2 separate regions of the Homo sapiens genome follow, and region 2 is linked to region 1. The links come from fine-mapping of genetic effects on gene expression. A gene starts in region 1. The other region holds a variant in brackets. All regions are shown on one strand. Distances are between the middles of the regions. Region 1 holds the start of CD9 (CD9 molecule). Region 2 has its middle 11 kb from the start of VWF.

Region 1 (16,359 bases):
GCCTCCCTAGTAGCTGGGACTACAGGCGCCCGCCACCACGCCTGGCTAATTTTTTGTATTTTTAGTAGAGACAGGGTTTCACTGTGTTAGCCAGGATGATCTCGATCTCCTGACCTCGTGATCCGCCCGCCTCAGCCTCCCACAGTGCTGAGATGATAGGCGTGAGCCACCGCGCCCGGCCGCCCAGCCAACTCTTTTAAACAGATGCATGAAACCTGAAATTATCACCCAGGACAAATCTTGTAAGAGTCTAGTGGATGATTCAGAAAGAAGTTGCTACAGGAGTGTCCTGAGAAAGAGGATCAGAGCAGACTAAGATGACTGAGGGTGCTGGGGAAGGCAGGGGCTGGGCTGGCCTCAGAGATGGTGCAGGCTGCTTGAAGGGCAGAAAGGAGGAAGTGCCAAGAGCTTGGGCTTCGGAAAGAAGAGGTGGGGACCCAGGCATAGAGCTGGGGATGCATGTGGTATTCCAAAAGAGTGAACAGATTTGCAAACAGAGGTTAAGGCGAGAGAGCAGAGGGCCTGTATGATGATCTTACAATTGAGACATCGGCTTTCCATACATTCAATAAATATTGTGCACCTACTGTATGTCAGGCACTGTTCAAAGCCCTTGGGATACATAGAGAACAGAACAGCCATGCGGATTTTGCATTCTAGCTGGAGGAGACAGGTAAATAGCAATGCACATACCAAGGAAACATTCCACTCTGTGAGAAGGTAAATGCTATGGGAGCATTGTTTGGAAGTAGAACAGGGGTAAGGGGAGTTGGGAGATCTTTGAGCAGGAAAGAGTAAAGCTGAGCTTCAGGAGTCTGATGAAAGGATGATATTAAATATTGCTTGTTTAGAATTGCTCCCCGCCTGCCCCCAACCCCCATATACTAAGGAGGACAGACCCTGAGAGCCATGATTTGTTTTGCTGAGCAGGGTGAGGGGAGGTGGGGACACAAACGGAAAATGCCAAGTTTAGAGCTAAATTGCTCCACACAGACATATGCAGAGGACATCCACAGGGCAGGGGGCTGGCTGAGGCTGGGCTGGGGGGCAGATGATAGGGGTGGCTGCCACAGATTGGACGTTTGAGAAGAGCTATCCAGAGGGATTCTTAGAATGGTTCTCTCTGGCATATGAGAGGGAACCCCTCATCCACCTATCCGTGAAACCTTCATAAAATCCACACTGGACATAGGCAGTTTCCAGGTTGAGTGTGTGTGTGCTTAATGCAAGGAAAAGAAGTGATGGGTGAGAGGAGGGCAGCCCACCCCCAAGGACGCACGCAGCAAGACTCTCTGGGTCCAATGTTGTGTCCATCCTGGGCAGGTGAACAGCAGCGAGGCAGGGCAAGGGTAGAACAGCCGTTTGGGCTGCAGATGAGCTTCCAGGATGCAGCCCCCTTGCGGATGGCAGGGCATCAGGGGGAACAAAAGATCAGGATCCAACCCTGGACTGAAACCAGAAGCTCTGAGGTCTGATCTGTGCTCTGCCACTCAATCACTACAACCCGCCTTAGCCCTGGTGCCTCCCAGCAATGACGTAAGAACAGCTAAGAAACAGGAATCACATTCACTAAGCAGCTGTGAGGCTGGGGGAAGGAGGAGCCCCAGGTGATGGGAGGTGTTGGTGCTGACTGATTAGAGACAGGGAGGGCTGAGGAGAAAGTCAGCTGCGAGCCTAGAAAGCCCTTGGAGATTATGAATTCTGATCTTGATGTTTACATTGAGATTACTATATTTCCTATTGCTTCGGTAACAACCACAAATTTAGTGGCTTAAAGTAACACATATTTACTATTTCACAATTCTAGAGGTCTGAAATCTAAAATGGGTGGGCAGGGCTGTGTTGGATCCCTCTGGCAGCTGCAGGGGAGAATTCGTTTCTTCGCCTTCTCCAGCTTCTAGAGGCTGTCCTTGTTCCCCAACACACAGCTGTGCATCACTGCGACCTCTGCTTCTGTCGTCACATCTCCTTCCCTGGCTTTGACACTTCCACCTGTCTCTTATAAGAACCCTTTGGATTCCACTGGGCCCACTGGGATGGTCCAGGCTATGCCATGGAAAGTAACACATTCACAGTTTTGGGGATTGGAACGTGGGCCTATTTGGAGGGCCGTTAGAAGTGGAAACGGGCCAGGCACGGTGGCGCACGCCTGTAATCCCAGCACTTTGGGAGGCTGAGGTGGGCGGATCACCTGGGGCCAGGAGTTCAAGACCAGCCTGACCAACAGGAGGAAACCCCATCTCTACTAAAAATATAAAAAATATAAAAAATATAAAAAACACGGTGGCTTACGCCTGTAATCCCAGCACTTTGGGAGGCTGAGGTGGGTAGATAACGAATTCAGGAGTTCAAGACCAGCCTGGCCAATATGGTGAAACCCCGTCTCTACTAAAAATACAAAAATTAGCTGGGCATGGTGGTGTGCGCCTGTAGTCCCAGCTACTTGGGAGGCTGAGGCAGAAGAATCACTTGAACCCGGGAGGCAGAGGTTGCAGTGAGCCAAGATCGTGCCACTGCACTCCAGCCTGGGTGACAAAGCGAGACTCCGTCTAAAAAAAAAAAAATTATTAGCCGGGCATGGCAGCGCACACCTGTAATTCAATCTGCTTGGGAGGCTGAGGCAAGAGAGTCTCTTGAGCCCAGGGATGGAGGTTGTAGTGAGCCGAGATTGAGCCACTGCACTCCAGCCTGGGCAACAGAGCGAGACTTGGTCTCAAAAAAAAAAAATCTGCAGGCTCTTGGATATCAGGACTTGCATTTACAGAGAGATGAGTTAAACAGAGAAAATGGTGGAAGGCACAAAAGGGGATGAGTGCTCCAGGAGAGGTCTGAGAGAGAAGGGCAGGGGCCTGAGAAAGCCCCACGCCCAGCCGTCATTCTGCAGATGTTTGCAGAGGGCCTGCTCTGGGCCAGGAAGGGACCGGGAGCTAGGGAGAGCACAGAAATTAATCAAATGCAAGTGCACCCTCGAGGAGCTCACTACCAAGAAGTGGACACATAAAGGAAGATGATGATGACCAGAGAATCACACATGCGAGACTCAAGGTAATCCACGGAGAAAAAGACTGGAGTGCTCCAGGAAGGCTTCATAAGGTGGTGTATTTGAGCTTAGAAAGAGGAACAGGAGAGAAGCTTCTAGAAGTGAAGGAGGTGAATCAAGATGGCCACTGGTGTGGTGGCTGGAAGGGCCTTGGTGGCCTGTGAGAGCGAGGGTCCTACCTGTTGCCTTACAAAGCCATTGCCCACAGCTGGAGGGACCTGGGGCATGGGTGTGACGGCTCATTAGGTCACCTGGCCTCTGCGTGTTCAAATCTTACCACCAGGGGGGGCACAAGAGCCAAAGTGGACCCTGAGCCTGAGCTGGGGTTTCTTTCCCAGAGACAGGACGCCTTGAGGGAAGGGAGGAAAAGCTTTCCCACTCCAGCACCACAAAGCCTGGAAGGCCTGGCTGCTTCCATGTGATTTCTGACTCAGGGGCTTACCCATATTTTCCTCTTCCGGTTAAGGCAAAACATAATTTTTCCATCGCTCACCTTCCTGGTTGCCTGTAGCACTAACTGTCTGTAACAAATGCACTTTGGCCCAGGGGTTTATTGTGACACAGAATGTCAGGAGGAATGAAAGACACCTCCTGATCCAAAATGCTGTGAACCAAAAAGTATCTGAGACAGGTCTCAATCAATTTAGAAAGTTTATTTTGCCAAGGTTACAGATGGGCGCCCAGGAGGCAGATCTGTGCCTTCTGCAAAGATGATTTTGAGGGCTTCAATATTTAAAAGGCGGCTGGTGGGGAAAGAGGAAGAAAGTTTTTTTAAGGTGTGGGTAGGTAAGAAACAAACGGTTGCATTCTTTTGAGTCACTGATCATCCTCTCACTGAATGCACAATTTACATGGCAGAGGAGGGTAGAGAAATAAGTCACTTATGCCTTGTCTAGCACAGCGAATCTTCATTTTTACATTGGAGGAAGCAATCAGATATGCATTTGTCTCAGGTGAGCAGAGGGATGACTTTGAGTTCTGTCCTTTTTTCTGTACCTGTGAAGATATGCTATCAATTTACATTGTCATGGTGAAATTCAACAGAACTGTTTTAGGGCAAATATCATAGGGTCCACCAGAAATTTCCTCATGGGCAAATTGTGAAAGAAGTGCATAGCTGCTTTTTTTTTTTTTTTTTTTTTTGAGACGGAGTCTGGCTGTGTCCCCCAGGCTGGAGGGCAGTGGCGCGATCTCGGCTCACTGCAAGCTCTGCCTCCCGGGTTCACGCCATTCTCCTGCCTCAGCCTCCTGAGTAGCTGGGACTACAGGCGCCCGCCGCCACGCCCGGCTAATTTTTTTGTATTTTTAGTAGAGACGAGGTTTCACCGTGTTAGCCAGGATGGTCTTGATCTCCTGACCTCATGATCCTCCCGCGTCGGCCTCCTAAAGTGCTTGGATCACAGGTGTGAGTCACAGCGCCCAACAAGAAGTGCATAGCTTTTTTTGTTTTTTCTTTTTGAGACGGAGTCTCACTCTGTCGCCAGGCTAGAGTGCTGTGGCGCGATCTCGGCTCACTGCAACCTCCAACTCCCTGGTTCAAGGGATTCTCCTGCCTCTGCCTCCCGAGTAGCTGGGATTATAGGTATGCGCCACCATGCCTGGCTAATTTTTGTATTTTTAGTAGAGATGCGGTTTCACTATGTTGGCCAGGATGGTCTCGATCTCCTCACCTCGTGATCCGCCCACCTTGGCCTCCCAAAGTGCTGGGATTACAGGCGTGAGCCACTGCGCCCGGCCGAGAAGTGCATAGCTTTTTAAAAAATCTTTGTAGCTATCTTATTTAGGAATGGGAGGCAGGTTTGCCTGTGGCAGTTCCCAGCTTGATTTTTTCCTTTGGCTTATTGATTTTGGGGTCCTAAGATTTATTTTCCTTTCACAATACTCTTGTACAGGTGAGGAGACTGAGGCCCAGAGAGGAGGCTGCCTGCCTAACATAGACCAAAGGGTCAGAACCAAGAGTAGAACTCAGACCCCCTCACTTCAGGCCCAATGCTCTCATCACATAAAAAGGATGCCTTGATTATACGAATGTGGCACTGAACTATATAGGCTGACCCCAATTCTTTCTTCAGTGTAAACAATAATAGGAATAGGAGCAACAGGCAGCGTTTCTGCAGCGCTTCTGTGGCAGGCAGGTTCTAAGGCCTCCCTGTGGATTTCCTCTGTCAACACTCACGTTTACCCTAATAAGTAATTTCTATTATAAACTTAAATATTTACTGAACTCCTCCCACCAGTACTTGTTAACTTGGGAGAAGGGGGAGATGCAATAAAATCTTTCTTTTCCTAAGACCTGTCTCCCAAGATAGATGGACGCAGGCCCAAAAGGGCACAATGGAACACTGACTGTTTTCCGGCCTCCTTCCCACCCTCCAGGGTGCTTCACACTCCTCCCCTGTGCTGGAATCATCCTGGACACTGGTTAGGATGTGTAAAGTCAAGCATCACCAAAATTCCTCTGCTTGTCCTCTTGGCATTAGGCTCAGTTTAGGCCCTGCCTCTCCTTCCTTGTCCTCCTTCCTCCCCATGTACCACTATCGGTTGTTTCCCCAGTGCAGCCAGCTGCCCGCTTCTGTGTCTTTGCATATCCAGTTCCCTCTTGGAATTCCCTCCTCCGCATTGACTACTGACTCCACCTTCCCAAGTCAAGTCAGCTGCTGCAATGTCCCCTGCTCTGGGGAGCCTCTCGGACTCAGATTGACGTGGGGATGTGCCCTGTGCCCCTACTTGTTACTAGCTTCTGCTGCTCTGCCTCTGATCTCTCCCTCCCCTTCCCGGCCTGACACCTCATGGGGTTTTGCCCTGCCTTCTCTAGGCTTTATCCCATTGCCCCGCCTTCATTCATTCTTCTCTCACCTGAACTACTCCACAGCCTCCTAGCAGATTTGCACCTGGTCCTCAGCTCAACTTTCATCTACCACTGCTCCCCTCATATTACCTGATTGCGTCTCCCCAAATACAACATCTCCATGTTCCATGCAATCCCGTAAAGCACTGAGCCAAGGACTGGAGATGCCAACAATGGTCCTGGTCCTCAAGGGGCTTCCTACCTGCCCCTCCGGCCTTCCCCCACCCAACTACCTAAAACACAGGCAGAGAACCTCTGAAAACACAGCAGATCCAACCATTCCCCTGCTTGAACCTTTCGGTGGCCCCTAATGCTCAGAGTGCAAAGTCCAGGAGCACAAGGCTCTTTCTCACCTTCCCACAAACTACCCCGTGACTCCAGGCTCCAGCCCAGAGCCCGGACAGCCCCTGCCCCAGCCTTTGCCCAGGATTCTCCCTTGGCGGCAACTTTCCCTGTGGTTCTGCAGCATCATCTCCCAGTCTGGGTCAGAGGCCTCTCCTTAGCCTCTTAGCCCCCAAGCCTCTCCCCGTAACTGCACCTATCACCCTCAAACCATTGTCTGGCTGCCTGTCTCCTCCCACACTGGTCCCTGAGCAGAAACAAGGACTAATCCATGTTTTTCAGCTCCTACCCCTAATGAAATACCCTAATAGATACTGAAAAATGTTTTTGAACCAATGAGACAAGTCTACTGATAATAAACAGGCAAATAACAGCAATGTGCTAACAGTGGCTGTTTCTGGTGAGCAGAATTTTGAGGTCTGTTCCTTTCACTTCTTGGTATTTCGGTTGTTTCTGTAATGACTGTATCTTGCTTTTGTAATCATAAAGGACAGTAAAGGAAACTTCATTTTGAAAATAATACAAAGGGATTCGGGGACTTCAAAAGAAGGTGACTCTCCTCGTCCACTCCAGAGAATCAGGAAAGGAGTGTTTAAAGACCCACAGAATTCCTACAAGTGACGTTGGGGGGGGGCCAGCCAGCCAGGGCGCATGCCGGCCAGCGAGTGGGGTGGGCTCTGGGTCCGGGAGAAGTCAGATCAGTGCTCTGTACAGGGCCTTGAGGGCAAGACGAGGAATTTCGACTTAGGTCCTTGAATCTGGAGAGCTACAGAAAGTTTGTGAGCTCAGGAGAAGCGCTCCGAGCTCGGCATCTGGAGCAGTTCAAGGCAGCAGCGAGCAAGTCCAAAGACGCAGGAGGGAGGGTGGGGTGGAGGAGTAGAGAGAAAACAGAAGCCGTCTACAGACCCTTTTTCCCTCTGGGGCAACTAAACCTCAAGTGCAGGAAGCGCTTGGGGACTGCCCAGCCCTCAGCTGTGTTATTATTCGGTGATAGGTATTTGCTAATTACTTCCAAAAGCCTCCCATCTGTCATCCCACCCAGACTGCGCGCTTCTAATTCCTCCTACCCCACATGCTGTGCCCAATGAAAAGTATGGTCAGCGAGCGAAGGTTTGCAAGGAGACAGACGAGGGCGAAATTAAGCCAGGCGGCTTCCCTTTAAATCCTCGCAAAGCAGAAGGGCCCCTCACTCTGGCAGCAGGCCTTGGCCAAGGGGCCTTTAGCCCTGACGACCCGGGGAAGAGTCTCCCAAAGCAGAACGCCCGGTCCGGCGCCCAGACCAAACGCGGGGGAACCGGAAGGGCGAGGCCTCCACGTAAGTCCGCGGTAAAAGTGGCAGGGAGTGGCTGCCTGCAAAGACCCCAAGACGGCTTGAAGAAGGAGTGGGTGGCGGGTGGGGGTTAGGGCGACTAGGCGGGGAAACAGGGAGAGGGTCGGGCTCCGCGGGGCAGCTGGGGCCGGGGCTCGCCGACCTGGGCGGGGGCGGGGGGCGGGGGGGGTGCGGCCCGGGCGGGGCCGGTGGGGCGGGAGGCGTGGCCGGCGGGGGGAGTGGGGGCGGCTTTTCCCGGCACATGCGCACCGCAGCGGGTCGCGCGCCCTAAGGAGTGGCACTTTTTAAAAGTGCAGCCGGAGACCAGCCTACAGCCGCCTGCATCTGTATCCAGCGCCAGGTCCCGCCAGTCCCAGCTGCGCGCGCCCCCCAGTCCCGCACCCGTTCGGCCCAGGCTAAGTTAGCCCTCACCATGCCGGTCAAAGGAGGCACCAAGTGCATCAAATACCTGCTGTTCGGATTTAACTTCATCTTCTGGGTGAGTGAGCGCGACTGCCGCGCGCTCCTCTCAGGGCCCACCTGTTCGCGGGCCCCGGACACTGGCCGCGGCCGCGAGTGCCGGCAGCTGGCACTGCCCGCACCGGGCAGGCACCGGGCGGGAAGAGAGAGCGCCCTGCGGCTGCCAGCTGGCTCCAAGGCCGGGTCCAGAGCCGGGCGGGACGGCCGCGACGGGCGCATTCGGGTGGGGGCTCATCACCGCCCAGCCGGCGTGGGGAGCCGGGCCCTCTTGAGATGAGGCGTGCGGGAGGGTCCTGAGCACTTTAGCTCGCCTAGGATTTGAGCTGGGGTGTGTGTCTGCTCCCAGCTCAAGTCCCTCCGAGTGCCAGAGAGGAAGGCAGGGAGAAGCGGAGCACCCCTCTTTGGGCCAAGGCCAAGGAGGACTGTGGTGAGCAGTATGGCTTGTGACCGGGTGGGGTCTCCCAGGTAGTAGGGGGCGCCAGGAAGGGAGGGTGCGGGCACGGCGAGAGCTCAGCCAAGAGCGGCTCTCACTTTTACGCAGGAGCGGCAGGGGTGCCTCGGCCGCGGGTCCGGCCCCGGGACCCAGTCCCTGAGAGTCGGGGGCCCCTCCACCCTTGAGGAGGAACCTCGCAGGCCCCCGTTCCCTCAGACTTTGATTCTGAGCCACCGTGAGAGCGCCGAACTCCCTGGTAGCTCCCTGAAAGACTAGCTTGTCTTGATTTCTTTCAAGGACGATAAGTATCTTCACTGGAGAGAACTCAGAGTTCGGGAGAGGAGGGGGCAGATACCTATCTGCGCCTCTAGTGGGATGAGTCCTGTGTGTGCATTTCCGGGAGAGATCAGGTGCCAGCCAGCTGCCCGCCCAGGAGAGCCTTGGCCTTGCCCTCTCCCCTCCCCGCCAGCCCAGGCGGCCCACCCAAGGCCAGGCAGGGCGCAGAGCGGACGTTCATCTGGAGAGGCCAGCGGGGCCAGGAGCTCCAGAGACACCTGCTGCAGGCCACTCAGCCTCTACAAATGGGAAGGCTGAGAGGCGACAGAAGCAAGGAATAGGAAACCCTTGTGTCCTTGTTTCTATAGCCACATTCCCTGCACACACATGACAATACTTGCCGCTCTGCAGGCAGGAAGAGAGTCTCTATGCCACTCTCAAGATAGATGGATGTAGAAACAGGTGCATGCCACCAGAGTCTTGTAACAAAAAAGTGCACTTGGCCAGGCACAGTGGCTCATGCCTGTAATCCCAGCACTTTGGGAGGCTGAGGCAGGAGGATCGCTTTCATCCAGGTTCAAGACCAGCCTGGGTAACATAGTGAGACCCCCATCTCCACAAAAAAATAAAAAATTAGCTGGGCGTGTTGGCATGCACCTGTGATCGCAGCTACTCAGGAGGCTGAGATGAGAGGATGGCATGAGCCTGGGAGGTCAAGGCTGCGGTGAGTCATGATTGCACCACTGCACTTAGCCTGGGTGACCTAGTGAGCCCTGTCTCAAAAAAAGTAGAAAAGAAACAAATGCACTTATTCCCCCTGGAGCTGGTCACTGAGGTCCCCACAAGCCTCCTTAGGGAAATCTTCTAAGATTCACTCCTCCCCAGAGCTGAAGGGGTGGTTGAACAGTTTTTCCAATTTGCAGAGACTGACTTCCCCCAGTGCATCAGTCACCATAACACACACCCCAGTGAGGACGGCATATAGGTGTGCTCCTTCCCAACCCTTGACTTGCTTTAAAAAGACCCTGCTGGCCGTGGGCACCCCTCCTCCTGTGTTGCCACCCACCCCAGCAACCACCCAGCTGCCACGCTTAGCTTCTTTCTTTCACCAATCCCTGGCAGCAGAAAAGTATGCGGGAAGGCAGCTGGCCTCACCCACCCTTGAACTTTGGGAGTTTTCCTCTCCCCTCCCAGGTACAGTCTCTCCCGGCTGGTGTGTTGGTTAGTCCTCAGCTGTCTGCCTAGACTGCATCCAGGTTTGGGACTGCAGGGAAACACAGACTGCCACAGTGTGCCTCCCTACCCCCATCTGCCCCATGGCATATGCAGGAAGCTGATGCGAGGCTCACAGGGCCACTGGTATCTACTCTGTCTGTGGCCTGCTGGCCTGCAATCTGTCCGTACTGTCCTCAGCCTGCCACCCCACTCGTATTCAGAACCCCCTATGCCTGGCCCCAGCCTAGGTGCAGCTGATGACCTATGTAGTCTGAAACAGAAATCACTCACACTGGAAATGTTTGGAATGACTTTTGAAGATCATGCAGTCCAGCTCTCTTATTCATAGTGAGGCAGCAGAGGAAGAGAGATGGGGTGATTTACCCAGGATCGCAGAGACAGAGCCAGTATTACAATTCCTGGGGCCCCTACTTTACTTCTGTCCTCTTCCATCTTCATCAGAGGCAGGAAGATGGGCAGTAGCTATGTTTTCCTGAATTACTGTTCATTTGTCCTGTATCTGGGTCCCTGTGGAGATGAAGCCCTCATCCCTAGGAGATGATGTAATGAAAAGGAAGACTGTGGTCGGTCCACTTGTGCAGAGTGTTAGTCTTTAGAGCCTTTCTTGTTCTAGTCCCATGATGTAGCCAAGAGCAGGAAGCATTGTCCCCACTGTACTGATGATCAGGAAACCATTTCCCAGAGAGGTTAGGTGACTTATCCAAGGTGATGCGGCAGGGTGGTCTCAGAACTAGGTTACTTTACCCAACTGGTTTTGGCTGCTGAGTGGGAATGGGAGAAGGGTGGGAAGAAGCTCCCAAGACTCCCTTAAGGAAAGGTGTAACCTAAGGGAACTGCTTGGGTGATTATGTTGTCACCACGTCCGTTTCTCTCTTGAGACCAGACATTTATAAACTTGGCATTCGGAACCTGATGTGGGCCTTGAAAAGCAGGAATTGTGAGGCCAGTGCCCAGCAGCACTTTGCACAGAGGCTGCTGAGAGGGGGTGTCCAACAGGCATCCAGAGAGAGGCCAACCTCAGTGGAGTAGGATGGTTATTGGGGGGCTGTGCCTCTTCCCTGGCCTGATCTCATCCCTGTGGGTCACTCCCTGATGGCCACAGCCAAACCAGCAAATCAGTCTGTTCTTCCACCACCTCCAGAACCGGCCCTCCTAGCTCTATTTTGATTGTTTCTACATTTCCTTCAGACCTCCCTGCCCGCCTGCCCACCCCCCAAAAAACAGTTGAGAGGGAAAACATCTTGCTGATGTCCATGTGGTAGACACACAAGTATTTCTCCAGCTGAAATGGGGAACCAGGGTTAGGGCCAGTCCAGTCTGACACATGCATGTCTGCCCTCTTTCTGGTCAGAGAAGGGGAGGAACTCCTTAGGGCAAAAGAGGGAAAGGTTTGGCTATACTGACAGAGCCCAATCCCCTCCCCACCTCCCTCAGCCCCTTTGCTTACTGTCTCTCATGCCTCGCTCACTGATGGAAACAGCAGTGTGGGGCTGGGAGGTCTCTTTCCCAAGAAACCATATCCCCTAGACCTAGGGGAGGCTGGTGCGAAACACAGAGACCTACACTGGGAATTCAGAGACCTGGATGTGAGCCCAGCTCTGTCCTCAACTCACTTTGAAACCTTGGGTTGGTCACTTCTGTGCTCTAAGCCTCAGTTTCCTCATCTGTAAAACAATAGCTTGGAACAAATGGTCTCAAAAGGTCCTTTCAAGCTCAGTCTATGAACCCAACACCCCTACACATACCACATACAACAATAGAACTCTCCTACACAACCCAAAATAGGAACCAATATTGGGTACGATGTATACTATGTTGGTGATGGTCACATTAAAAGCCCAGACTTCACCATGTGTAACAAAACTACATTCGTGTCCCCTAAATCTATAAATAATAATATAATAAACAAAATACAAGCCCTGAATTGGAAATGGGAGATGGATACCAAGGCTTGAGTCCTCAGAACTTAGCTTTTCTTGGCCTTTACCTCTGGAGCAAGAGCCCAGCTGGTGCTTTTCTTTGCTGTTGCTTCTCAGTTCCCTCTCCTCACCCTGGGTGGGGTCTCTCTCAGGGGTGTTCATTGCCCGTATACCTTAGTACTTGGCCTAGTGATCAAAGCACCAGTCCTGGGTTCCATGTCTCATCACCAGATGGGGCTGGTGACCACCCCACATGGTGCTGTGAGAGTTAAATGGGGAGTATGTGTAGTGCACTTAGCATAGTAGATTGCACCAGACATATCTTCCAACAGTAGCTATTGTTATTCACTAGTGGAGAGTAGAATGAGGCCCTGGGGAGGGTGAGAGCAGTTCTCTAAGAAGTGTGGAAGTCTAAACCGCAGATGTGGCCAGGAGGACCCTCCCAATCCACACACTGGCCTCCCTGCCCCTTCCTGTATCAGTGCCAACTTTGTCCTGTGCATCAAAACCCTGACTCCATTTCATGGGTTGCTACTGCTCATTTGGCTGCGGGAAGGCCCCGCTTCTGAAAATAAAATTGCCTGTCAGAGAAACCCTAAGGATCAGGATTCCGGATCTGGGCAGGGCATGGACAAGTTGGGTGGCAGTGGCAAAAGCCCCTCCCCATGGTCTGCCTTTTCCCCCAGAAGCAAGTTGCTGGGACTGTTGCATAAAATGGCTCCCACCTCCAGTGCCCAGACAGCCTGCGCTGGGGTGAAGCTGGCTACACGTGCACTGAAGCTGGCAGGCTTGGGGAGAGGTGAGCTGAGGCCAGGTATCTGCTTCCTTTGCCCAGGATTTTGATGGTCTCTCCCCTACACCCACAGTGGGTGTGAACAACAAAGACCCAATCTTTTGATGGTGGTGAGGATTCCTCTGCACACGCTCACACTCACGTTCTCTACCCCCTTCTTTTCAACGTGGCCCACAGCACGATTCCAGACCCTGCTCTATTGTGCTCAGAGGAAGCAGCTGCTGGCTCCAGCCCGAATTTGGGAGTGCTTTGATATGCAGCCCTCTCTGGGGCCCTGCCAGTACTGACTCTAGATGAGCCCTCTGCGGCTGCTGGGCTCACAAATCAGCCTTCTCACCCCTTCCTCCAGGAGCAGTGTTGGATGAGAATCTCCCCCTTACACACATAGATCCTGTGTTTGTTTTGTCTGCTTTTGTTTGTTTGTTTGTTTTTGTTTTCCTGTTCTGTTCAATTTTATAAGGAGGCATAGCTTTTGGACTTGGTTGCAGGGTTGGGTTTGGAACTTAATAATACCTTGGATTGACAAAGGCGCCTTTTCTTCTAAAGAACACAAACCTTGATGGTTCTTGCCTGGGTGTGGTTCTCACCTGGGTGAGCCTGGCTGTGAGGGTAGGGGGCCTGAGGTCACCCCAACCACAGCTTCTGTGGTCCTACTGGCAGCATGTTCTAGACAGACCTGTGTGGAGCTGGGGAAAGGAGAGTGGAGAAGTTTGAGGAAGCTGCATGTTTATGTTTTGTGTTCCTCCCTCCCCCAGGTTGGGGTCAGCGGGACTTTATTTGGATCCACCACAGGTCTTTTCAACCAAAGCCTTGCAGAAACAGGCTTTACCCCATACACACAGAAGAGCAACGACTTCCTTGTTAAGAGTCTGAAAATCTGGGTGAGAGCCTGTCAGACCCATGGCCTCAGAGAGCAGGAAAAATCCTTTGCAACTGGGAAGGAAATTCAGAAGACAAAAAAAAAAAAAAATGCAGGGGAATAGGGGGCGGGGGCTAGTCTTTATACATTTCTTTCTTTCTTTTTTTTTTTGGAGACGGTGCTCACTCTGTCACCCAGGCTGGAGTGCAGTGTTAACAATCATGGCTCATGGCTCACTGCAAACTCAACCTCCCAGCTCAGGCGATCCTCACACCTCAGCCTCCTGAGTAACTGGGACTACAGGCATGTGCCACTACACCCAGCTAACCTTTTAATTTTTTTGTAGAGACAGGATCTCACTATGTTGCCCAGGCTGGTCTCAAACTCCTAGGCTCAAGCGATCTGCCAACCTTGGCCTCCCAAAATGCTAGGATTACAGGAATGAGCCACCGCGCCTGGCCTACATTTCTTAAATTTATGTTTTAAGGCCTGACTACAGATTACTTGCCTGTTTTATTCCATGGAAAAAGTCATGCTGGTCCAGGGACATTCTCATTTTCCATCAAGTGATGGCATGCAGCCGTAGAAAGCAACATCCTGTCCCCAGATGAGATAATTTTTTTGTGATAATTTTATAATAATTGTATCTATCTGGTAATTTCCTCCCCCCGCCTCTCCAAAAATACTTAGTTGTGGATAGTTTTAAGTGCTATATCCTGTCATCCTAGACTAATACATCTTAACGTTTTTAGGGAAATTCCTTTTTAGGGAATTCCTTGGAATCAGTACGACCTGCCTCCAGAAAAATGTTATGTCTGTTTCTGGAGGCCCATAGACATTTTTTTTTTTTTTGCCTTTTTCTCCATTGCCCAGGCTGCAGTATAGTGGCACCATCATAGTTCACTGCAGCCTCAAACTCCTGGGCTTTACACAATCCTGGCCTCAGCCTCTCAAGTAGCTGGGACTACAGCACACACCACTATACCCGGCTAATTTTTTTGTACAGAGAGGGTCTCTCTATGTCGCCCAAGCTGGTCTTGAACTCCTGGGCTCAAGCAGTCCTTCAGCCTCGGACTCCCAAAGCACTGGGATCATAAATGTGAGCCACCACGCCCAGCCTGAGCTCACGCTATAAATGCCCCATATTGGTTTTTCTCCCTCAGTTTCCAGACAACCCCTGCTCTGTCCTGAGTCCCATATTTCTGCCATAAGAAGCAGGTTGCCTCACCGTTCCCCGGGGGCTGCAATGGGGGCATCACAGGGGACTTTGTGAAAGGCATTAGAAATGATAAATTCCCTAGTGATCAAGTGCAGCTCAGATGGGACAGCTGGCCTCCCACCCATCCCTCTGACTCTCAGCTTAATCATTGCCTAAGGAGTGGTTTTCACTCGGTTAATTTAATGAGTGCTCTGTATTTCTAGTACACACGAAAAATGCAACTGTATGATCTTCCAGCCAGGTTGGGCCTCTTGGCTTAGCTTTTCCCAGAGCTTGGTGCTTCATCTTTGTTCAGGAAGAAAGGAGGTCTGTCTCTCTTCTCCTTCCCTCCAAATGCAGACGGAAAGTCTCGTCCTCTGAGGACTTGCAGAAAGGAGGAATGTCTCAGGAGGGATCATTTGGGGAGCTGCACTCCCAAGGAGTTGAGAAGCAGCCTGGTTGAGTAACTGGGAAAGGCAAAGCAGCCTGACTTGGAGAGGGGCCCGGATTAATGTGATTCCAGAGGAGGTCCCGGTAGAGAGAAGTTTGGGGACTACTGACTTGGAGAAAAATCAGAAACCCGGGTCTTAAGAGCCCTTCCTCTTCAATCCTTAAGCCAGGCATTGTGCCTGAGGGAAGAAATAGTGGCTCTTATGAGCTCTGCTAGAAAAGTAACCCTTCAGGCCAGGCGCGGTGGCTCACGCCTATAATCCCAGCATTTTGGGAGGCCGAGACAGGCGGATCACCTGAGGTTGGGAGTTTGAGACCAGCCTGGCCAACATGGAAAAACCCCCTCTCTACTAAAAATGCAAAATTAGCCAGTCATGGTGGCAGGTGCCTGTAATCCCAGCTACTTGGGAGGCTGAGGCAGGAGAATTGCTTGAACCTGGGAGGCGGCGGTTGCAGTGAGCTGAAATCGTGCCATTGCACTCCAGCCTGGGCGACAAGAGTGAAACTCCATCTCAAAAAAAAAAAAAAAAGAAAAGAAAAGTAACCCTTCACAGCTTACCCAATGCACATCCAAGTTTCCAGTGACACCTCTGAGCAGGCTAAGCAGCTGGTGGCTCCTGCCAAGCCCTCTCCTCGGAACTGAGCTTCACAGCTTCAGGTGCCAGTCCCTTGCTGACACTCCCAGTCTAAGCTGTGTGTTAGTCTCCAAGTTCAGAAACAACACAATACATGGGTCATAGGAGAAGAACCTCGACTGAGGCTAAAAATACCATAAAGTTAATCAGGCAGTTTTATTAATTATGAATTTATTAATTCAAAACCTATTCAAGGATTTTAGTTTTTTTTGTTTGTTTGTTTGTTTTTGTTCTTTTTTTTTTGAGGTGGAGTTTCACTCTTGTTGCCCAGGCTGGAGTGTAATGGTGCGATCGCAGCTCACCGCAACCTCCGCCTCCTGAGTTCAAGCCATTCTCCTGCCTCAGCCTCCTGAGTAGTTGGGATTACAGGGGTGTGCCACCATGCCCGGCTAATTTTTAGTAGAGACGGGGTTTCTCCATGTTGATCAGGCCGGTCTTGAACTCCTGACCTCAGGTGATCCACCCGCCTCAGCCTCCCAAAGTGCTGGGATTACAGGTGTGTAGTTTAATGTCTTTTAAACCTAAGTTGATTGAATGTAGT
Region 2 (16,359 bases), 65 kb before region 1:
GGAGTTCAAGACCAGCCTGGGCAACACAGCAAGACCCTGTCTTTACAAAGAATAAACTTTTTTCAAGGCAGGGCACGGTGGCTCACGGTGGGTGGATCACAAGGTCAACAGATCAAGACCATCCTGGCCAATATGGTGAAACCCCATCTCTACTAAAAATACAAAAATCAGCTGGGCATGGTGGCACGCACCTGTAGTCCCAGCTACTCTGGAGGCTGAGGCAGGAGAATCGCTTGAACCCGGGAAGCGGAGGCTGCAGTGAGCCAAGATCATGCCACAGCACTCCAGCCTGGTGACCGAGTGAGAGTCCGTTAAAAAAAAAAAAAAAAGAAAGAACAGGAGGAAAACTTGAAAAAGAACTTTAAGGCCAGACGTGGAGGCTCACACCTGTAATCCTAACACTTTGGGAGGCAGAGGCAAGAGGATTGTCTGTGCTCAGTAATTTGAGACTAGCCTACACAACACAGCAAGACCCCATCTCTACAAAAAATAAAAATAAAAAATTAGCTGGGCCTGGCGGTGCATGCCTGTGGTCACAGCTACTCAGGAGGCTGAGGTAGGAGGGAGGACCCCTTGAGCCCAGGAGGTTGAGGTTGCAGTGAGCCATAATCGCGCACTCCAGCCTAGCCAATAGAGTGAGATACTGTCCCAAAAAAAAAAAAAAAGAACTTTAAGAAATGTATATAGTAAATTAATTGAAAAATTCAAAAACACCAGATATTTTTGGGAAAAAAAAAGCTGAAAAATGGTTCTAAAGAAATCACTCAAATATAGAGATGAAAAAATGGAAGAGCAGCCAGGCACAGTGGCTTATGCCTGTAATCCCAGCACTTTGGGAGCCCAAGTAAGGCAGATCACTTGTGGTCAGGAGTTCGAGACCAGCCTGGCCAACGTGTTGAAATCCCATCTCTACTAAAAATACAACTATTAGCCTTGCATGGTGGTGCATGCCTGTAATTCCAGCTATTCAAGAGGCTGGGGCAGGAGGATTGCTTGAACCCAGGAGGCAGAGGTTGCAGTGAGCCAAGATCACACCACTGCACTTTGGCCTGGGTGACAGAGTGAGACTCCATCTCAAAAAAAAAAAAAAAAAAAAAAAAAAATGGAGGCAGAATTAAGAAACATGATAGAATTAGAAGATCCAAAGAGAAGTGCTGAGAGAAGAAGTCCATTTGTGGAGAATTCTATATGCAGTGTCTTAGTTTGAAGTCCCAGAAGCAGACCCTGAGTATTTTAGTGTAGATAATTGATTTGGGAGGACAGGAAGCATCGGCAGGGAAGTGGGAATGTGATACGGGGCAGGGAAAGCAGTCAATAAAAGATGTTTATTATGCCAGCCACCAAGTGGACAAGAAAGCTTCCTTCTGGAGGGAAGTCTGGGAAAATGTAAGATCCATGCCTCTGAATCTTCCCACTCTTGGGTCAGGGAGCAGGAGAGTTTCTACACTTACTCCTTCCTGTCAGTTATTGTCAAGGCTGCTTCAGGAGGCATTCAGCCCTCAACACTTCTGGCCCTCAGGCACGGAGGAGCAGACACTGGTAGTCTAGAAGAAACGGAGAGATGGGGTTAGAGGGCCGTGGCAGAGGGACTGTAACATCTGGTCTACCTGTAAATTATTGTTCAGAGTTGAGGAAACATAGACTTTTTTTTTTTTTTTTTTTTTGGAAAAACAGAGTGGGCTTAACATTAACAGTCCTTTCTGAAGAAACTACTAAAGAAGGAATTTCAGGGAGAAAAAACATTTTTTGTTATTGTTTCTGAGACAGGGTCTCTGTCACCCAGGGTGGAGCGCAGTGACACAGTCACAACTCACTGCAGCCTAAACCTTCTGGGCTCAAGCGATCCTCCCACCTCAGCCTCCCTAGTAGCTGGGACTATGGGCATGTACCACCATACCTGGCTAATTTTTGTATTTTTTTGTAGAGACAGGGTTTTGCCATGTTACCTAGGCTGGTCTCAAACTCCTAGAGCTCCTGGGCTCAAGCAGTCTTCCTGCTTCGGCCTCTCAAAGTGCTGGGATTACAGGTGTGAGCCACCTCGCCCTGCCAGGAAGAAGAAAATTCAGCCTAGAAACAGGATGCCAAGAAAAGGTAAATAAATAAAATAGTAAATCTGGGGGTAAATATGAGCAGGCAGTCATTATATAAAACAATAACAATGGTAATGATAAGTTGGAGAGTTATTAAAAATTAGAACCAAAATACCAGATAGCAATGACATGTAAGACAGGAGTGAAAGTGTATTAAGGTCCTTGCATGGCTCAGAAGGAAGAAACAGGTCATGATCACTTTAGACTTAGTTAAGGCTATACTGCATAGTAAGATTTTAAGGGAGGCTACTGAAAGAATAGAATTGAATGTATGTTTTCCAAACCTATCGAAAAAAAACAAGAAATTTTTAAAAACTAGATTGATCTAGGAGAAAAATGGAAAAAGCAAGACAAATAGTATAAAATGTAAATGCAACAGTACAAAAAATTCAAACAGATCAATAATCAATAATAAAAAGGTAGAGATTATCAAATTGGATTTCTTTAAAAAGGCACACAATCCAGCAATGTTCAAGAGACAGTCCTAAAATATAAACACACAAAGACCGTAAGGAAAAGAAAGGAGAGGCAAGTGATGGCCAAGGAAAAGCGTTTTATACCACTATCACACACAGTGGACCTTAAGATCAAAGTCATCATTAGCACCAAAGAGTAGAAAAAGGTGATACAAAGATCAATGCACCAGGAAGATGGAATCTATAGATTTATGTGCACTTCATAATATAAGCTTAAAATTTATTTTTAAAAACGATTAAATTATAAAGCAGAAAAGCTTTCAGTTTTGTAAAAGTCAACAACACCCAGTTATGGAAAACAAGTAAACAAAACACTTAAGTAACCTATAAAAAGAAGGGAAGGTCCTTGGCCTGAGACACAGAGCATATTTCATACTTATGGTAAAATGGAAGCCACTTTCCCTTTAAAAACCAGAACAAGGCCGGGCGCGGTGGCTCACGCCTGTAATCCCAGCGTTTTGGGAGGCCGAGGCCTGTGGATCACGAGGTCAAGAGATTTAGACCATCCTGGCCAACATGGTGAAACCCCGTCTCTACTAAAAATACAAAAATTAGCTGGGCATGCCGCTGGCGCGCGCCTGTAGTCCCAGCTTCTAGGGAGGGTGACGCAGGATAATTACTTGAACATGCAAGCATGTTCTTTTTTTTTTTTTTTTTTTTTTTTTTTTGAGACTGAGTCTCGCTCTGTAGCCAGGCTGGAGTGCAGTGGTGCGATCTCGGCTCACTGCAATTTCCGTCTCCCAGGTTCATGCCATTCTCCTGCCTCAGCCTCCTGAGTAGCTGGGACTACAGGTGCCTGCCACTACGCCCGGCTAATTTTTTTGTATTTTTAGTAGAGACGGGGTTTCACCGTGTTAGCCAGGATGGTCTCGATCTCCTGACCTCGTGATCCACCCGCCTCAGCCTTCCAAAGTGCTGGGATTACAGGCGTTGGCCACCGCACCCGGCCGACAAGCATGTTCAATGTCATCACTGCTAGTCAATATTGGATCAGATGCCCAGGCCAGCAAAGTAAGAGAAGAAGAGAAAATATGAGGTATGGAGCTTAGGAAAAAGCAAAATAGTTATTATTTGAAGATATGAATGTGTACATAGAAAAATTCAAAAGAATCTACCTAAGAGTTTAGAAGTTTGCCGCAAGATTCCTTTTTAAAATCTATTATGTTCCCATATAGTTATAAAATACAATCTTTGAAGTGGCCCTATTAGTAAAGTAGCAATTACTGCAGATACTTAAGAATAAATAGAATAGGCCGGGCGTGGTGGCTCACACATATAATCCCAGCATTTTGGGAGGCCGAGGTGGGCGGATCACTTGAGGTCGGGAGTTTGTGACCAGCCTTGCCAACATGGTGAAACCCCGTCTCTACTAAAAATACAAAAAATTAGCCAGGTGTGGTGGCGCATGCCTGTAATCCCATCTATTGGGGAGACTGAGGCAGGAGAATCGTTTGAACCAGAGAGGCAGAGGTTGCAGTGAGCCTAGATCATGCCTGGACAACAAAGCAAGACTCTGTCTCAAAAAAAAAAAAACAAAAAAACAAAAACAAAAAAAAAACTGTCCAATATTACAGAGAAAATCATAAATCTTGTCCCAAGACATAAAAGAAAACCCAATGAAGAGACATGCTGTGTTCATATTTACTAAGTCACAATATTGTAAAGATGCCAAATATCCTCAGATTAATCAATAAATTAAATACAATTTCAATCCAACAGGGTTTTTCATATAATTAGACAAGCTGATCCTAAACTCCATATGGGAAGCAAAATATCAAGAATAGTTAAAAACGCCTGTAGTTCCAGCTACTCGGGAGACTAAGGCAGGAGAATGGCGTGAACCCGGGAGGCGGAGCTTGCAGTGAGCCAAGATTGCGCCACTGCACTCCAGCCTGGGCGACAGAGCGAGACTCTTGTCTCAAAAACAAAAAAAAAAAGAATAGTTAAAAACAATTTCAAATGTGGCCGGGCGCGGTGGCTCACGCCTGTAATCCCAGCACTTTGGGAGGCCAAGGAGGGCAGATCACCTGAGGTCAGGAGTTCAAGACCAGCCTGATCAACATGGAGAAAGCCTGTCTCTACTAACAATACAAAATTAGCCGGACGTGGTGGTGCATGCCTGTAATCCCAGCTACTCAGGAGGCTGAGACAGGAGAATGGCTTGAACAGGGAGGCAGAGATTGGGGTGAGGCGAGATCCCACCATTGCACTCCAGGCTGGGCAACAAGACCGAAACTCCGTCTAAAAAAAAAATGGCCAGGTACGGTGGCTCACGCCTGTAATCCCAGCACTTTGGGAGGCCAAGGCGGGCGGATCACAAGGTCAGGAGATTGAGACCATCCTAACACGGTGAAACCCTGTCTCTACTAAAAATATAAAAAATTATCCGGGTGTGGTGGTGGGCGCCTGTAGTCCCAGCTACTCAGGAGGCTGAGGCAGGAGAAGGGTGTGAACCCGGGAGGCGGAGATTGCAGTCAGCCCAGATTGTGCCACTGCACTCCAGCCTGGGCGACAGAGCAAGACTCCGTATCAAAAAAAAAAATAGAAAAAGAAATGGACAAACAACCCAGTGGCAATAGAGAGTGATATGGAAAGACAATCTACAGAAAAGGAGGAAACGCAGTTGGCCAGTAAACATACCAAAACCAGGTCGGGCGTGATGGCTCACGCCTGGTAATCCCAGCACTTTGGGAGGCTTAAGCGGCAGGATCACCGGAGGTCAGGAGTTCGAGACCAGCCTGAACAACACGGTGAAACACCTAGTAAAAATACAAAAATTAACGAGGCGTGGTGGCGCACCTGTAGTCCTGAGAGGTGACAGCCTGCTGGCAGCCCTCCCAGCCCTCGCTGGCTCTGGGCGCCTCCTTGGCCTTGGCGCCCACTCTGGCCGCACTTGAGGAGCCCCCCTTCAGCCCGCTGCTGCGCTGTGGAAGCCCCTTTCTGGGCTGGCCAAGGCTGGAGCCGGCTCCCTCAGCTTGCAGGGAGGTGTGGAGGGAGAGGCGCGGGCGGGAACCGGGGCTGCGCAGCGGCGCTTGCGGGCCAGCGCGAGTTCCGGATGGGCGTGGGCTCAGCGGGCCCCCCACTCGGAGCGGCCGGCCAGCCGCGGGCAGTGAGGGGCTTAGCACCTGGGCCAGCAGGTGCTGTGCTCGATTTCTCGCCAGGCCTTAGCTGCCTCCCTGGAGCGCCGCCCCCTGCTCCAGGGCGCCAGGTCCCATCGACCGCCCTAGAGCTGAGTAGTGCCGGCGCACTGCGCGGGACTGGCAGGCAGCTCCACCTGCGGCCCCAGTGCGGGACCCACTGGGTGAAGCCAGCTGGGCTCCTGAGTGTGGTGGGGACTTGAAAAACCTTTTTGTCTAGCTAAGGGATTGAGAATACACCAATCAGCACTCTGTCTAGCTCAAGGTTTGTGAATGCACCAATCAGCACTCTGTGTCTAGCTGATCTGGTGGGGACTTGGAGTACCTTTATGGCTAGCTAAGGGATTGTAAATACACCAATCAGCACTTTGTATCTAGCTCAAAGTTTGTAAACACACCAATAAGCACCCTGTGTCTAGCTCAGGGTTTGTGAATGCACCAATCGGCACTCGGTATCTAGTTAATCTGGTGGGGCCTTAGAGAATCTTTATGTCTAGCTAAGGGATTATGAATGCACCAATCAGCACTCTGTATCTAGCTCAAGGTTTGTAAAAGCACCAATCAGCACTCTGTATCTAGCTCAGGGTTTGTAAATACACCAATCCACACTCTGTATCTAGCTAATCTAGTGGGGACATGGAGAACTTTTGTGTCTACCTCAGGGATTGTAAACGCACCAATCAGCACCCTGTCAAAACTGACCAATCAGCTCTCTGTAAAACAGACCAATCGGCTCTCTGTAAAATGGACCAATCAGCAGGATGTAGGTGGGGCCAGATAAGAGAATAAAAGCAGGCTGCCAGCTCCAGCCCTGGTAACCCGTTTGGATTCTTTTCCACCTTTTAGGTGCTTTGTTCTTTGTAATAAATTTTAGTGCTGGTTATTCTTTGGGATCACACTGCCTTTATAAGCTGTGACGCTCACTGCAAAGATATACAGCTTTAGTCCTGAAGCTACGGAAAACATGAACCCACCAGGAGAAACGAAGAACTCTGGATGCGCTGTCTTAAGAGCTGCAACACTCAACAGCGAAGGTCTGCAGCTTTATTGCTGAGTCAGCAAGACTGCGAACCCACCAAAAAGGAAAAACTCCCAACACATTGGAACATCAGAAGGGACAAACTCGGGACACGCCGCCATTAAGAACTGTAACAAACACCGCGAGGGTCTGCGTCTTTATTCTCGAAGTCAGCCAGACCGAGAACCCACGAATTCCAGACACAGACTCAGCTACTCGGGAGGCTGAGGCAGGAGAATCACTTGAACTCGCGAGGCAGAGGTCACAGCGAGCCAACATCACAGCATTGCACTCCAGCCTGGGCACAAGAGCAAGAGCAAATCACCATCTTTAAAAAAAAAAAAAAAACCCAAAACCTGTTCAACTTTGCTGGTCATGAGGGAAATCTAAAATAAAACCACAATTAGTTACCCACTTCTCAGAATGGCAAGGAGGGGCTCCTGAAATTCCTATATGTTGCTGAGGACAACAGGTAAAGCACTTTGGAGAAAGTGTGGAAATATATCTATAAAATGTAAAGATGCTCTTCCCCACAGTCTTGTGACTGCATGCATAGGCGTATCCCCTAGAGAAACTTTCACGCATGTGCACCAACCAGCATGCACAGAATGTTTACTGCAGCAGAGTCTGCAGTCAGAGATGTGTAAACAACCAGGCTAAATATACTTCAATAGAAGAATTAATAAATTGTATGTTCATCCAGTGAAATAACAAATAGCAATTAAAAATAATCTAGGCTACATGTATTAACATGGAAAACCCCCCAAAATAATGGTGAACAAAAAACAAAAGCAAGGATCAGAGGATACGTACCATTTACATAAAGGTAAAAACCATGTAAAATAAAACTATATATTATTGCTTACAAATATGTTTAATTGGCTAATCATGGTGGCTTACACCTGTAATCCCAGCACTTTGGGAAGCCAAGGCAGGAGGATTGCTTGAGGCCAGGAGTTCAAGATCAGCCTGGGTAACATACAGCAACCTCATTTTTATGGGGAAAAAAAAAAACAACTAGCCGGGTA[T/TG]GATGGTGTGCATCTCTAGTCCCAGCTACTCGGGAGGCTAAGGTAAGAGGATCACTTGAGCCCGGGAGTTCGAGGCTGCAGTGAGCCGTAATCATGCCATTGCACAACAGTCTGGGCAACAGATTGAGACTCTGTCTCAAAAAATAAATGAATAAATAAATACGTTTACTTACAGTAAAACATGCAGGTGGAGTGATAACCTGTAAATTCGGGATACTAGTTACCTCTAGGGAAGAAAAGAGAAGATGGAATCCAGAGAGTGGGACCTAGGGGGCCATACCTCTCTGTAAATATTTTGTTAATTATTTCAAAAGTATAAAGCAAATATGGCAAAATGTTAACATGCAGCAAGCTGGCTAGAACATGGGTGTTTCTGCATTATCCTCTTTAGTTTTCTCTGTGGTTGAAAGTTTCACTTAAAAGATAAAGCTCTGAAGCCAAGTGACGTGGAAATATTGGCTTTGCCTTACAAATAGCAGGGTGACCAACATCCTGTACATAAATCCTCACACACACAGCCCATTTCCTTGAAACAAATTCCTAGAAGTAAAAGAAATTGCTCGGTCAAAGGGCACAAAAATTAAGCCTTTTATATATCCTCCCAAGAACTTTACCAATTTACCCTTCTATAGCATTATTATTTTTTATTACAGATTTGGTAATGTAAGTGGCAAAAACTATTATAAGATTATTACTTTAGGCCAGGCGCCATGGTTCACGCCTGTAATCCCAGCACTTTGGGAGGCTGAGGTGGGTGGATCACGAGGTCAGAAGATGGAGACCACGGTGAAACCCCGTCTCTACTAAAAATACAAAAAAAATTAGCGGGGCACGGTGGCGGGCGCCTGTAGTCCCAGCTACTCGGGAGGCTGAGGCAGGAGAATGGCGTGAACCCGGGAGGCGGAGCTTGCAGAGAGCTGAGATCACGCCACTGCACTCCAGCCTGGGCGACAGAGCAAGACTCCGTCTTAAAAAAAAAAAAAGATTGTTACTTTAATACTCATTCCTTTCATTATTGGGAGAACATTTTCTAACATTGTCGATGTGTATTTCTTCTTTTGTGAATTTCTTGTTCATGTCTTTAGCTCATTTTTAACTGAGATGCTTATCTATATTGATCTATAAAAGCTCTTTAAAGATTAAAAATGTTAGTGTTTTCTCACATTGATATGAGGATTTTTTTTTTCAGTTCTTCACTTTAATATATATTGATGAGGGTTTTTTTTGTTGTTTGTTTTTTGATGTACAGGAGTTTGAGGAATCATCTCATGTTCTTTTTCTTTTTCTTTTTTTTTTTTTTTTTTTTGATATGGAGTCTTGCTCTGTCACCCAGTCTGGAGTGCGGTGGCGAGATCTCGGCTCACTGCAAGCTCCGCCTCCCAGGTTCACGCCATTCTCCTGCCTCAGCCTCCCAGGTGGCTGAGATTACAGGCATGTGCCACCACACCCAGCTAACTTTTGTACTTTTTAATAAAGACTGGGTTTTACTATGTTGGTCAAGCTGGTCTCAAACTCCTGATCTCAGGTGATCCGCCCACCTCGGCCTCCCAAAGTGCTGGGATTACAGGTGTGAGCCACCATGCCTGACCTAAGGATCTAGTAATCTAGGATGATCTATCTTGCCATCCTTGATTACATGTTCATAGCCAGGTTGACAGAAGAATCCAGGGGGTTACCAGGTGCTCAGTAAACAAACTCAAGGATCTGAAATCTTCACTCCATCCCACTTGCTGCTTCCTTCTTCCCAAGCCCATTATGACTCCTTTAATGACCAGCAGCCCAGCGACTTTCCTCTGGCATGGCCTCAAGCACTGCTTCAGCTCCACCAGGAGCACCAAGGCACTAGAGGCCAGGCAGGAGCAGCCCAGGTGGAAGGCCCCAGGGCGAGGAGGAGCCCCAGCAGCCTGCCTCTTTCCCTTTCGGTGGGCCCTTCTTCTCCAACCTCCCATCCAACAGTCAGCACACGTGCCTTCCTCCTGCACCCTTGCTGAGCACACGCCCACGTCCACCCTGACCCCACACCCTGCACCCCAGAATGTCTGATTGGTCCCCGGAGGCATTGCTTCCCAGACACCTCTTGTGTTCAGCTCACACTGTTCCACCATCCAAATGTCCTGCCTCCTCCCCACTCCTCCTCTCTCCTGTTCATCCTTCCATGTCCCCCTCCTGCAGAGGGAGAATTTGTCATTTGGTGAACACCTTGCAAGTACCAGATACTCTGCTAGCTGCTTGTGAACACTGTGTTACTTCATCCTCCTCTGTGAGTGTCCCAGTGCTGCCGTAACAAATCACCACAAACCGAGTGGCTTAGAACAGCACAAATGTCTTCTCCCACAGTTTTGAAAGGAAGAAGTCTGAAATCAAGGTGTCCACAAAGGCTGTAAGGGAGAGACCTTCCTCACCTCTTCCAGCTTCTGGTGGCTTCAGACTTTCCTTGGCTTGTGGCAGCATCACTCTAATCTCAGCCTCTGTCTTCACATGGCTCTCTCCTCATCTCCCTGTGTGTCTCCCACTGTATATTTCTTATAAGAACACCTGACATTGAATCTAAGTAATCTGGAAGGACCTAGTAATCTTTTTTTGGTTTTTTTGTTTGTTTGAGTCGGAGTCTCACTGTCACCCAGGCTGGAGTGCAATGGTGCAATCTCAGCTCACTGCAACCTCTGCCTACCTGGCTCAAGTGATTCTCTTGCCTCAGCCTTCCAGGTAACCAGGATTACAGGTACGTGCCAACACACCCAGCGGATTTTTGTATTTTTAGTAGAGACAGGGTTTCACCATGTTGCCCAGACTGGTCTTGAACTCCTGACCTCAGGTGATCCACCCGCCTCAGCCTCCCAAAGTGCTGGGATTACAGGCGAGAGCCACCGCACCCAGCCTCTTTGTTTTTGTCAAGGTGGAGTCTCACTCTATCACCCAGGCTGGATTGCAGTGGCACAATCTTGACTCACTGCAGCCTTCACCTCCGAGGTTCAAGTGATTCTCCTGCCTCAGCCTCCCGAGTAGCTGGGATTACAGGCACCACCACCACACCCAGCCTTTTTTTTTTTTTTTTTTTTTTTTGGTATTTTTAGTAGACAGGGTTTTGCCATGTTAGCCAGTCTGGTCTCAAACTCCTGGCCTCAAGTGATCTGCCCACTTCGGCCTCCCAAAGTGCTGGGATTACAGGCGTGAGCCACCACACCCCGCCTAAGGATCTAGTAATCTAGGGTGATCTATCTTGACATCCTTAATTACATCTGCAAAAAGCCTTTTTCCAAGTAAGGTCACATTCACAGGGTCCAGGAGTTAGAATGTGGACATGTCTTTTGGGGGTCACCATTCAATCCACTGTACCTTCTAACAACCGTTTGAGGGAAAGAGAGCGTTACTCTCATTTTATAGTTGAGGATGCTGAGGCTCAGACAGGGTAAGGGCCTTGCCTAGGATCACACTGCTACCAAAGGCAGCCAGCATCTGAATCTACCTGATTACAAAGTCCGTGTTTTCTCCACTATACCTATAACTCTTCCATAAGCCTTTTCTCCTTTCCTCCCACCCTTCACCCCCGCTTTTCCTGCCTTTGAACCACCTCTGGGTGCTTCTGTGGCCCTCTCATCTTTTCATGCATTTTTCTTTTTTTTGAGACGGAGTCTCGCTCTGTTGCCCAGGCTGGAGTGCAATGGCGCGATCTTGGTTCACTGCAACCTCTGCCTCCCTGGTTCACGCCATTCTCCCACCTCAGCCTCCCGAGTAGCTGGGACTACAGACGCCCACCGCCACACTCAGCTAATTTTTTGTTTTTATATTTTTAGTAGAGACGAGGTTTCACCGTGTTACCAGGATGGTCTTGATCTCCTGACCTCGTGATCTGCCCGCCTCGTCCTCCCAAAGTGTTAGGATTATGGGCATGAGCCACCGCTCCCAGCCTTTTCATGCATTTTTGTTTGTCTTATCTCCTCCAGTCTGAGCTCTCCTTAGAACAAGACCTTGCCTTACTCATCTCTGTATCTTCCAAAGTGCTCTGTCTGGAGCATAGCACATGGTAAGTGCTCCATAAATGTCTGTTGAACTCCCTGCTAGTAGAACAATGATGTGGGTTAATTAGCATATAATATTAAAATGTAGCTACAGAACTGAAACTGCAGATAAAAAAAATTGCTTAATACCCAAGGAAGTTGTTGCCTGCTCTCCAAATCATCAGCACAGAAGATAGCACTCGTCACTGTGGTTGGGGAAATTGCACGGTGAAAGTCACAGGATGGCTCTGCAAGGGGGCAGGGACATCAGACTGGGGTCACGTTCCCATGTGGTATTCTGCGCCTGTAACTCATATGACACTCTGGCACTATTTCTAAATAACACTCAAGTGTCTGTTTTATCAGAGTATAACACACTTGGCTGGAATAGTTCACTTACTGATATTCCACAATTTATGTAACCAGTTCCATATTATGGGATATTTATTTAGGTTAGTGCTACTTTTTTTTTTTTTTTTTTTTTTTTGAGATGCAGTCTCGCTCTGTCACCCAGGCTGGAGTGCAGTGGCGCAATCTCGGCTCACTGCAAGCTCCACCTCCTGGGTTCATGCCATTCTCCTGCCTCAGCCTCCCGAGTAGCTGGGACTACAGGCACCCGCCACTACACCCGGCTAATTTTTTGTATTTTTAGTAGAGACAGGGTTTCACCGCGTTAACCAGGATGGCCTCAATCTCCTGACCTCGTGATCCGCCCGCCTCTGCCTCCCAAAGTGCTGGGATTACAGGCGTGAGCCACCACTCCCGGCCTACTTTTTTTTTTTTTTAATTAACAATGCTGCAGTGAACATCTTTGAAGCTATATCCATGCACAACCCTCAGGATTACTCCCACAGGATGAAATCCTACATGTGGAGCACTGGGTCAGCCACCGTCCACATTTTCAGTGAGGCCTTTGACAATAAGGCCAAATGGCCCCCCTGAAAAATTGCAATGGTTTATAATGGTTGCAATGGTTTAATTACCCATTTGCTGAGTAGGATTTTGCCAGGTGAAAATGAGGGCAAAGGCACATCAGCTGCAAGGAAGGAAGTAAAAGCTTAGAAGCAGGCAAGCTCTGAGATGCTAAATCAGTAAGTAGGTGAATAAGCCAGTTGTTACAGCCTATAAAGGAGACTCACAGGAAAAGAGACCAAAGAGAGGAATAAGAGGCAAGTCCTCAGGGACCTTCAACCAGTGTAGGGGTTTATGTTCATCCTGTGACACCAGATGAGGCCCTCTGGCAGCAGTGGCATGTATTGTGAGAGGTCAGATGGAGAAAGGGAGATCCATTAGTGGTTGGTGGAACCTTCCCGGACAGGGAAGACGAGGGCCTGGAGGAGACCATGGGTTTGACAAGAGAAGAGCAGATACAGCCAACCACGTAACACATTACGGTAGCAGAAGAACAGCCAAAGATGTCTACATCCCATCTCAAACCTCTGAATGCTACCTTACATGGCAAAAGGGATTTTGCAGATGTGAGCAAGTTAAGGGTCTTGAGATGGGGAGATGATCCTGGCTTACCCCAGAGTATCCTGCTGGGCCGATATAATCACAAGAGTTTTTATAAGAGGAGCAGGAGGGTCAGCATCAGGGAAGGAGATGTGATGATGCGAGCAGAGGTCATGCAACGCGGGGCCACGAGGCAAGGAATGTGTGCCCCTGGAAGTGGATAGAGGCGAAGAACAGGTTCTCCCATAGAACCTACAGAAGGAATCCAGCTCTTCCAACACACCTTGATTTTGATCCAATTCGAGCTTCTTACAATTACGAATTGTAAGATAAATTTGTGTTGTTTCAGGCCACTAAGCTTGTGGTCATTTGTCACTGCAGCAATAGAAAACTAATATAGGCCAAGATATCATGCCACACAACCTGCTCCCTTGCCCTCATGGAGGGTGTCCCAAGGCAGCTTTGCCAAATAAGTTAGAGGACAATTAGTGCTGTGAGGCTCAAGGAAGAAGGATCCCTGAGGACCACAGTATGAGAGCCATTAGAACTTGGGCTGATGTAAACAGCATTAAGTACAAATGGGAAGGGTGCGTGACCTCTGGGGGCGCATGGGGCAGGGCTGCTCAGAGGCAGGGGGATGGGTAAATTGACCTCTGCCTGTCTGAGGAGTAAGTTCTCCAGGTAACTAGTACAAAAGCAAAAGAACCTCAGGGGAGGAAAGGTTTTCTAGGAGGACCCATCTTTGTCTTTTCTTTGTATATTTGTAGCATCTCTCTTACGTAAATTCTGCAGGAAAGAGAATTTTCTTGGCAGTATGCGCCAAATAAATAAACACAGCAGTATTTCTTAGGCCAGACGACCAGCTCCCAGCATAAAGCTGTAGCCCCCAGCGGAGAGGAAGCTGTCCTCCTCTACTTCCTCTCTTCTAAAGACAAACATCTTGTGCAAGAATAACATGCTCACTTCCTTCACAATCATCAAAATAGAGAGGACCCACCCACGCTACAATGTCAGAAGAATGGTGCAGCTTCAGACTCATCTTCCCTGGTTCTCAGGAACAATGACACCACATTATTGCTGCTATCGAGCTACAGAGAACTCAGACCATTACATCTGGTGGCATTCCTGGCCCCAGTAGTAGCACAGCAGGATTCCTGACCCCAGAATCACTATCTCAAGACCTGGGGTTCTAATTTGAGAGGCAGAAAGTTACAGCAACTCAAATTTATATGCATCTTACAAAATAGCTTCAAAATACATAAATTGACAATTGACTTCAAAAAGGCTTTCTCAATTATCCATAGGTCAGGCAGATAAAAATCAGTAAAGATAGAAATTTTAAAAACAATGATCAGCCTAGGCAACAAAGTGAGACCTCATGTCTACAAAAAAAAGAAAAAATTAGCCAGGTGTAGTGGCACACATCTGTCATCTTAGCTATTCAGGAGGCTCAGGCAGGAGGATTGCTTGAGCCCCGAAGTTCCAGGCTGCAGTGAGCTATGATTGCACTGATGCAGGGCAAGTAAGCTCCCAAATTGGGACTTAGCCCTGGAAGATTCTTGGCTTTGCTCAGGAAAGAATTCAAGAGCCAGCTGGTGGTAGAAGAAAACAGCTTTATGGAGGCAGCAGTGTGACAACTTTATGACTACTCCTGCAGAGCAGGGCTAACCCCTAGGCAATGTGTTGAGAGCACCAGCTCAGGGGCAGGTCAACAGTCATACATATACCCACTTTCAATTACTTGCAAGTTAAGGTATTGAGAGGTGACAGCGTGCTGGCAGTCCTCAGAGCCCTTGCTTGCTCTCAGCACCTCCCCTGCCTGGGCTCCCACTTTGGCGGCATTTGAGGAGCCCTTCAGCCCCCCACTGCACTGTGGGAGCCACTTTCTGGGCTGGCCAAGGCTGGAGCCCGCTCCCTCAGCTTGCAGGGAGGTGTGGAGGGAGAGGCGCGAGCAGGAAGCAGGGCTGCGTGCCGCGCTTGCGAGTCAGCTGGAGTTCCGGGTGGGCGTGGGCTTGGCGGGCCCCACACTCAGAGCAGCCGGCCAGCCCTGCTGGCCCCGGGCAATGAGGGACTTAGCACCCGGGCCAGCAGCTGTGGAGGGTGTACTGGGTCCCCCAGCAGTGCTGGCCCACCGGCGCTGCGCTCGATTTCTCGCCGGGCCTTAGCTGCCTTCCCGCGGGGCAGGGCTCGGGACCTGCAGCCTGCCATGCCTGAGCCTCCCACCCACTCCATGGGCTCCCGTGTGGCCCAAGCCTCCCCGACGAGCACCACCCCCTGCTCCACGGCGCCCAGTCCCATCGACCACCCAAGAGCTGAGGAATGAGAGCGCACAGCGCGGGACTGGCAGGCAGCTCCACCTGCAGCCCCAGGTGCGGGATCCACTAGGTGAAGCCAGCTGGGCTCCTGAGTCTGGTGGGGACGTGGAGAGTTTTTATATCTAGCTCAGGGATTGTAAACACACCAATCAGCACCCTGTGTCTAGCTCAAGATTTGTGAGTGCACCAATCGACACTCTGTATCTAGCTGCTCTGCTGGGGCCTTGGACAACCTCTGTGTGGAAACTCTGTATCTAACTAATCTGATGGGGACGTGGAGAACCTTTGTATCTAGCTCAAGGATTGTAAACGCACCAATCAGCGCCCTGTTAAAACAGGCCACTCGGCTCTACCAATCAGCAGCATGTGGGTGGGGCCAGATAAGAGAATAAAAGCAGGCTGCCGGAGCCAGCATTGGCAACCCGCTCCGGTCCCCTTCCACAGTGTGAAGGCTTCGTTCTTTTGCTCTTTGCAATAAATCTTGCTATTGCTCACTCTGGGTGCACACTGCTTTTAAGATCTGTAACTCTCACCGTGAAGATCTGCAGCTTCACTCCTGAGGCCAGCAAAACCACGAGCCCACCGGGAGGAACGAACAACTCCAGATGCACTGCCTTAAGAGTGGTAACGCCCACCGCAAAGGTCTGCAGCTTCAATCCTGAGCCAGGGAGATCATGAACCCACCAGAAGGAAGAAACTCTGAACACATCTGAAAGTCAGAAGACACAGACTCCAGATGTGCCACTTTAAGAGCTGTTAACTACGAGGGTCTGTGGCTTCATTCTTGAAGTCAGTGAGACCAAGAACCCACCAATTCCAGACGCAGTATGGGTTATTCAGAAATT

The links. PIP is the estimated chance that this variant, and not a neighbour inherited with it, causes the effect.
Region 2: its variant is fine-mapped to the expression of CD9 in monocytes after LPS (Quach 2016, PIP 0.93). The same link has a PIP of 0.9 or more in monocytes after Pam3CSK4.

What each region holds. Positions count from the first base shown.
Region 1 is chr12:6,192,528-6,208,886 of GRCh38, forward strand. It overlaps CD9 (CD9 molecule), which reads left to right and starts at 7,873. Exons shown (of 8, transcript NM_001769.4): 1 at 7,873-8,038. The coding sequence starts at 7,973. RefSeq lists a silencer at 1,569-1,618 and enhancers at 6,745-7,357, 7,358-7,969, 9,196-9,808, 9,809-10,420.
Region 2 is chr12:6,127,058-6,143,416 of GRCh38, forward strand. No RefSeq gene overlaps it. Among named protein-coding and RNA genes, the nearest start is that of VWF, 11 kb to the left of the region's middle. RefSeq lists an enhancer at 15,290-15,847. The variant T/TG (reference allele first, on the strand shown) is at 7,750.